Linked DNA regions of Homo sapiens. The protein of the gene in region 2 interacts with the protein of the main gene of each other region in a pairwise test. Each region holds a gene or a part of one and is shown on either strand. Other genes may lie near its edges.

Region 1 (3,500 bases), on a different chromosome or scaffold from region 2:
ACGCCCGGTCAATTTTGTATTTTTAGTAGAGACCGGATTTCTCCATTTTGGTCAGGCTGGTCTCGAACTCCCGACCTCAGGTGATCCGCGCGCCTCGGCCACCCAAACTGCTGGGATTACAGGGGTGAGCCACCGCGCCCGGCCAGGATTAAGTTCAAATGAGAAAATGGATGAGAATCTTCGAACACAGGGTCTGGTATACAGCAGGCGCTAAGTTATGTTAGTTCACTTCCTCTGTCTCCTTTCGCCCCTGTGCTGCGCTCCTTGGAGGAGGCATTCACTGAGGCTGGCCGGGGCAGATCCAAGAGAGGTGGGCTGGGGAGTGGCAGGAGGCAGAAAAGCGACCCCACGGTTGGGAAGAAGAGGGTGGACCTCCTTACCCGGTGGGGGTGGGGACAACTCCTCCAGCGTGGGAGGCCGCTGGAACACCTCGACGGCTGCTGGTGGAGGAGGTGGGTCCAAGGAGCTGGGGAGAGGTGGGGCTGGAGGTGCTGCCTGCCCCTTGGGCGTGGGGGCCCCACCGACACCTTCGGCGCTGCTGAACACCAGAGAGCCCGGTTGGCGGACACGCCTTCCCTAATGCAGCATCCCCAACTGGCCCCACCCCTCCAATCCTGACCCCAGCCCTGCACGTGTGACCCAGGAGTAACTGGGTCCTTTCAAGCCCAGGAGTCACTATGACCACTGGCAGGTGGCCCCTCTCAAAAGCCACTTCCCACCCCCCACCCACCCACGTGGGCTTGTAGGTCTCACCCGGCCGAGGCCAGGGAAAACGCAGAGGAGGCGGCGGAGAGTCTGCCGTCGGGCACCACCGGCAGGTGCACTGGCTCGGGAATCCGGGGTGGTCTCCTGGCGGGGGGCAGGGAGTGGGTATTAGGAGGAAGGAGGAAGGCTTCTGGCCAGCAGGGGTCGGGTGCGAGCAGGAAGGGCAGGTGGCCGAGGGGGAGGTTTGGCGCCAGGCATCCAGCATGACGGCCTGAGCACCCGGGGGCGCCAGGGGTGGGTGGCGAGGCTGGGGGAGGAGAGTTTCAGGGTCGCGCGGGGCAGGGCTAGGCTAGTTGGCGTCGCGGCGAGGCCTCACCCCAAGGTGGCGGAGGCGGGTGTGGCAGGGGCCTTGATGCTCTTTCGAGACAGGGTGCCTGTTCTTGACAGCTGCGTGCTGAGGTCCTGCGAGGGAGCGGGAGGTAGGGCTTACATTTGGGGTGAGGGGCCTCCCTCCACCCTCATCCCCAAGAGGAAATGGAGGAGGGGCGGACGGGAACCGGGAGGGAGAGCCCGGCATAGCCAGTTCCCACTTCCACTTCTCAGGCCCCTCTCCTACACTTCCCCCACCCCACCCCCTTGTCATTGCCTGGGTTCTGGGACTCAGTTCTACCAAAGCCCACAGCCACTTCCTCTGCACAGCCACAGCGGGTTGAGTGGGCCCAGCACCCCTGTCCCTCCCCCAGACCATCTCAGAGCCCAGGAAGCTGGGGCCCTGGCTTGGTGGTCCCTAACTTTGATCGGGCTGAGGAGGGGGCGGAGAAAGGAGAGGACACATCACACTTAGAAGTGTCCCACCTTTCATTTTCGAAGATTTGTGGAACTGGCTTTGGGGAGTTAGGGCAGAGAGGAGCAAGACCCAGGCCACTTAGAGGGGATGCGCAAATGACAGGGTGCACGCCTACATGAAAGAGGGAACTGCTGTTACCAATGGGACTTCCCCAAGGGGTGGGTACAGTGTTACCCCATGGGCTTCACCAGGGGCAAGACAAAAGAGATTTGAGCTGAAGCACAAAGAATATAAGTTGGGCCGCGAGTGGTGGCTCACACCTGTAATCCCAGAACTTTGGGTGGCTCAGGCAAGAGGATCACCTGAGTTCAGGAGTTCAAGACCAGCCTGGCCACCATGGAGAAACCCTATCTCTACTAAAAATACAAAAAAAAAAAAAAAAAATTAGCCGGGCATGGTGGCGGGCGCCTGTAATCCCAGCTACTTGGGAGGCTGAGGCAGGAGAATCACTTGAACCTGGGAGGCGGAAGTTGCAGTGAGCCAAGATCGTGCCATTGCACTCCAACCTGGACAACAAGAGCGAAACTCCATCTCAAAAAAAAAAAATATAAGTTGGACAACAGAGAACTACTGGTGGGAAGGAGGCCTGGTGGTTGAAGGGGAGAATGTCGTTTCCCCTTTAAGGGGGGCTGATAAGTTAAGGATATCAAGGGGCTCATTTTGATACAGAAATGTTAAGGTGTGGAGACAGGAATTGAAGGTGGGACGGGTGTGAGTGCGTGCCCTTTCTGACCTCGCAGAAGGACATAGGCTGAGAAGACGCCAGCGCCATGCTCCCCTCCCTTCACCAAGTCCCCTTTGTGTGGCTGTATCCCCGCTTCTTCTCACCAACAGCAGCTCTGGGGTGACTGCTCAGTGCAGTGACCTCAAACCCCCAGACAGAGGAAGTTGCTGTTCTCATGTGGCTGGGAGCCATTCTCATGCACACCCTGACATCCTCCCTTCCCCCTCTTCCCCTTCCCACACGCCCGGTGCCCACAGGGGCAGGGCGGGGGGGCGAGGGGTGCTCAGGATCTCACACTCAGCAGATCCTCCGAGGATGGTACAGACCAGTTTTGGAGGGAGGGATTACAAAATCTAGGGAGAGGGAGAAGAGCTCAGAGTGGTGGTTTCAGGGAGCGGGGAAAGAAAGGAGTGGCAAGTGGGGACAAAACTTGCAGAACTGGGGTTCTGGAGGGAAAGGGGCCACAAGGCACGAGAGGGTGGGTTGGAGGGAAAGAGGAGGGCCCCTCTCTCTACCTTGATCCCATGGCCAATGTCGTCCAGGCAGCCAAAGTTGAGGGGTCTCCTGCAGTAGGGCGTGAGAGGGGGTAGGTTCTCTGGGGCGATGACCTTCTGGCCGGGGGGCAGCCGCTGGACAGTGGCTAAGGTGCCGATCTCCCTTCGGGCCACCTTCTCCATATGCATGTTCACCATCTGCATGACAGGGTTCAAGGTGACAGAGAGGGGTGGTCTGTGTCCAGCACCCTTCCCCCTAAGGAGGAAGAAGATAAAGACTGGGCTGGGGGGGGGAGGCAGCCAGGTCTAGAAAAAGAGGGCCCTGCCCCCCGCCCCCCGCCCCCCACCAGGCTACATAGCAATTGGGAAAAGTAGCAGGAAAGGATGGAGCCACTTTGGAGCAACTTCCTGGTGGAAAGAGAGTATGGGTTATTATTAGCTGTGCAGGAACAGGAGGAAAAGAGAAAACACAACATCCCTAGGGATGCTGGGAGGAGACAAGCACCCGGCTGACTTCGGAGCAGAGGGGGAGAATATGGAGGTGGCAGAGAATGGTGGCTGGATCAGCTCTCCCCTTTGGGGGACAAATAAGTAAATTGACTTCCTCTCAGAATGTTCCATGGAGAAAGCCTACAGTTCGAAAGGGTGGGAACTCTGGTCTGCGGCGGGGGAGGAAAAGACACACCCCACCCACTGAACATGTGGGTGATGTACAGGCCAGGCCAAATGT
Region 2 (2,969 bases):
AACACATATGGACCTGGCTTTGGACCCAACTTGCCCAATCACAAGTCAGGTTCCTATCCCACCCCTTCACCATGCCATGAAAATTTTGTAGTGGGGGCAAATAGGGCTTCACATAGGGCAGCAGCACCACCTCGACTTCTGCCCCCATTGCCCACTTGCTATGGGCCTCTCAAAGTGGGAGGCACAAACCCCAGCTGTGGTCATCCTGAGGTGGGCAGGCTAGGAGGGGGTCCTGCCTTGTACCCTCCTCCCGAAGGACAGGTATGTAACCCCCTGGACTCTCTTGATCTTGACAACACTCAGCTGGACTTTGTGGCTATTCTGGATGAGCCCCAGGGGCTGAGTCCTCCTCCTTCCCATGATCAGCGGGGCAGCTCTGGACATACCCCACCTCCCTCTGGGCCCCCCAACATGGCTGTGGGCAACATGAGTGTCTTACTGAGATCCCTACCTGGGGAAACAGAATTCCTCAACTCTAGTGCCTAAAGAGTAGGGAATCTCATCCATCACAGATCGCATTTCCTAAGGGGTTTCTATCCTTCCAGAAAAATTGGGGGAGCTGCAGTCCCATGCACAAGATGCCCCAGGGATGGGAGGTATGGGCTGGGGGCTATGTATAGTCTGTATACGTTTTGAGGAGAAATTTGATAATGACACTGTTTCCTGATAATAAAGGAACTGCATCAGAAAAAATACCATGCCACTTTATGTATTATTATGTTGGGGAGGAATGATAACAGGGAACAAGAAGAGAAGCAGGGGTTAATCCACTCACTTTCCTCTTTAGAGAAGCTCCCTCACCCATCCCAACACCTCAAGTCACACTCATGAAGATAGAGACAGTCATTTGGGAGATTTAAAGGGATATCCTCAAAACAGAACACCAGCCTCTCACCACCAGAGATGACCGGAAATATGTTTTCTCTTCTTCCTTCCCTGCATCAGGGGAAGAGGCTGGTGAAGTTGGTGAGCATCAGCTGGACCAGCTGCCCTGGGTAGAGAGCATGGGCTGCTGGGTCAGATGTCTCCTGCTCTGGCCGAAACAGGGTTGGTCCAAACACAATTCCCAGGTTGTGGGGTGTCATGCGATTCTTATCTGAGTGTGCTATCACCCTGTAAGCAAAGGCCAAGGAAGGGGATATATGGCAGCAGCTTGCCACTTCATAGCAATCTAACTAACCCTTCAAAGTTCTGAGCAGGGAAGAGTTCACTCTGGGATTCCTCCACATGGTAACAAAAAAACCAAGGAGATACAAGGAGAATGGAGATGGACCAGTGGAGAAACCTTCAGGATACAACCTGAAGATATAACTGCCTCTTCCGACTTCAGGGGCTGCCCCAAGAGTTCTGCCTGCTCACAGTTTGGGAGTCTTTAATTCAAGTGGCCATCCTCTCTCAGAAGTCACTGCCCAGGCCCAGTTCAACCAAAGAAGCCATCAGCAATGTCCCAATGGGAGACAAAGAGGCAGAGGGAAGGGAGAAGTAAGATTTCCCTTATTCCTTTCACAGCATCTTGGTTCCATTTCCCCACTTGATGCTGACCTTTAGGTTTTGACCTAAAGTCTTTGACGGGCACGGTGTAATCCCAGCACTTTGGGAGGCTGAGGTGGGTAAATCACCTGAGGTCAGGAGTTCGAGACCAGCCTGGCCAACATGGTGAAACCCCGTCTCTACTAAAAATACAAAAATTAGCCAGGCGTGGTGGCGGGCACCTGTAATCCCAGTTACTCAGGAGGCTGAGGCAGGAGAATTACTTGAACCCGGGAGGCAGAGGTTGCAGTGAGCTGAAATTGCGCCACTGCACTCCAGTCTGGGTGACAGAGCGAGACTCTGTCTCAAAAATAAATAAAATAAAAAAATAAAGGTTTTGACTCTGGTAATATGCTCCTGCACAGAGGTTGCCTGCTTCCTCACCTGCCCATTAAACTTAGGTGCTTCCCTACCTTCACTCCACCTGCACAGAGTCCCTGTGGCATTCCCCACTCCACCTTTCCCCAGCATGAACAAAGAGGTTCTGTCTTCCTGACCTGCATAAATGCTCCAGGAGGTACCGTAGAGTGTCATGGTTGGGCTTTGGCATTGAGCCTATTAATTCTTGTATCTGAGAGAGGCACTGCTCTGATTCGGAGAGTGCTAGAGAGAGTGATGGGAAAGGCATGGTAGTAAGGTTAGGGAAGGTGCTAGGACAGGATGGGTAAATGCACTGCTCTTTCCCACAGGCATGGAAGACATCATTAATCTAGCACAGCTTTCTTTTTCACATAGCCCAACTATAGCCTCATAATTCTTTTCAATTCAGCCCTCTAAACATTCACAAAAAAGCAACTGGAGTAGGCACCTGAGTTGAACATTATTTTCCATCTCTAAAGTCAGAATGGGAAAGAAGAGTATAAGGGAACCTCTATTCTATTATTTACCACCCGTGTCCCCCACATCAAGGGTTCTTTCCAAAGCTCCAACCCTTACCAAGGGCAGCACGGAAATGGGGCAGCAGCAGTGGTGGCACCAGAGGCTGGGGCAGCTCCCGGAGAAAAAGCTTCAGGGCTCCGGTGACCACATGAATGTCATCCCACTCAGTACTGTCCAAATCTAACCGACCTTCTGGAGGGAGAAGGAGGTATAGGGGCTCATGAAGGGCCAGAAAGATTTAGAGACTGAGAGATTAGAAGTTCTGGAGAAATCCAGTCAAAGCAGACTATAGGAATGCCTAGAGGGTCTGCAGTGGGGCAAGGTAGCTAAGGTGGGGATGAGGACAACCCTCCCAGGAATAGTACATGGGGGTTTCCACGGGAAGCAAAGAGGATATGTGGAAGTTTTAGGGATCTGAAGGGTCTTCCATGTAAGTACCTTGTCCTGGCTGTTCTGGGAACACATACCTCCCATCGGAGGTGACCGCACGCTCTGCAACATGAATGAGGAGAGATCAGGAGCTAAGACATACACTTCCAGCCTGACGGCCTCTCTATTCT

Evidence for each region.
Region 1: the proteins of ARHGAP9 (region 2) and ABI3 interact in binary tests that used the Homo sapiens proteins (3 or more experiments, as listed by UniProt).

Annotation. Positions count from the first base shown.
Region 1 is NC_000017.11:49,217,207-49,220,706, reverse strand, and holds part of ABI3 (ABI gene family member 3), read right to left. Parts: intron 2,969-3,500; coding exon 2,792-2,968; intron 1,168-2,791; coding exon 1,082-1,167; intron 850-1,081; coding exon 754-849; intron 539-753; coding exon 381-538; intron 1-380. UniProt on the Homo sapiens protein: May inhibit tumor metastasis. In vitro, reduces cell motility.
Region 2 is NC_000012.12:57,471,576-57,474,544, forward strand, and holds the end of ARHGAP9 (rho GTPase-activating protein 9), read right to left. Parts: intron 2,902-2,969; coding exon 2,848-2,901; intron 2,602-2,847; coding exon 2,467-2,601; intron 2,134-2,466; coding exon 2,028-2,133; intron 1,114-2,027; coding exon 942-1,113; 3' UTR 694-941; downstream 1-693. Other genes in the region: zinc finger protein GLI1, read left to right, coding at 1-486. UniProt on the Homo sapiens protein: GTPase activator for the Rho-type GTPases by converting them to an inactive GDP-bound state. Has a substantial GAP activity toward CDC42 and RAC1 and less toward RHOA. Has a role in regulating adhesion of hematopoietic cells to the extracellular matrix.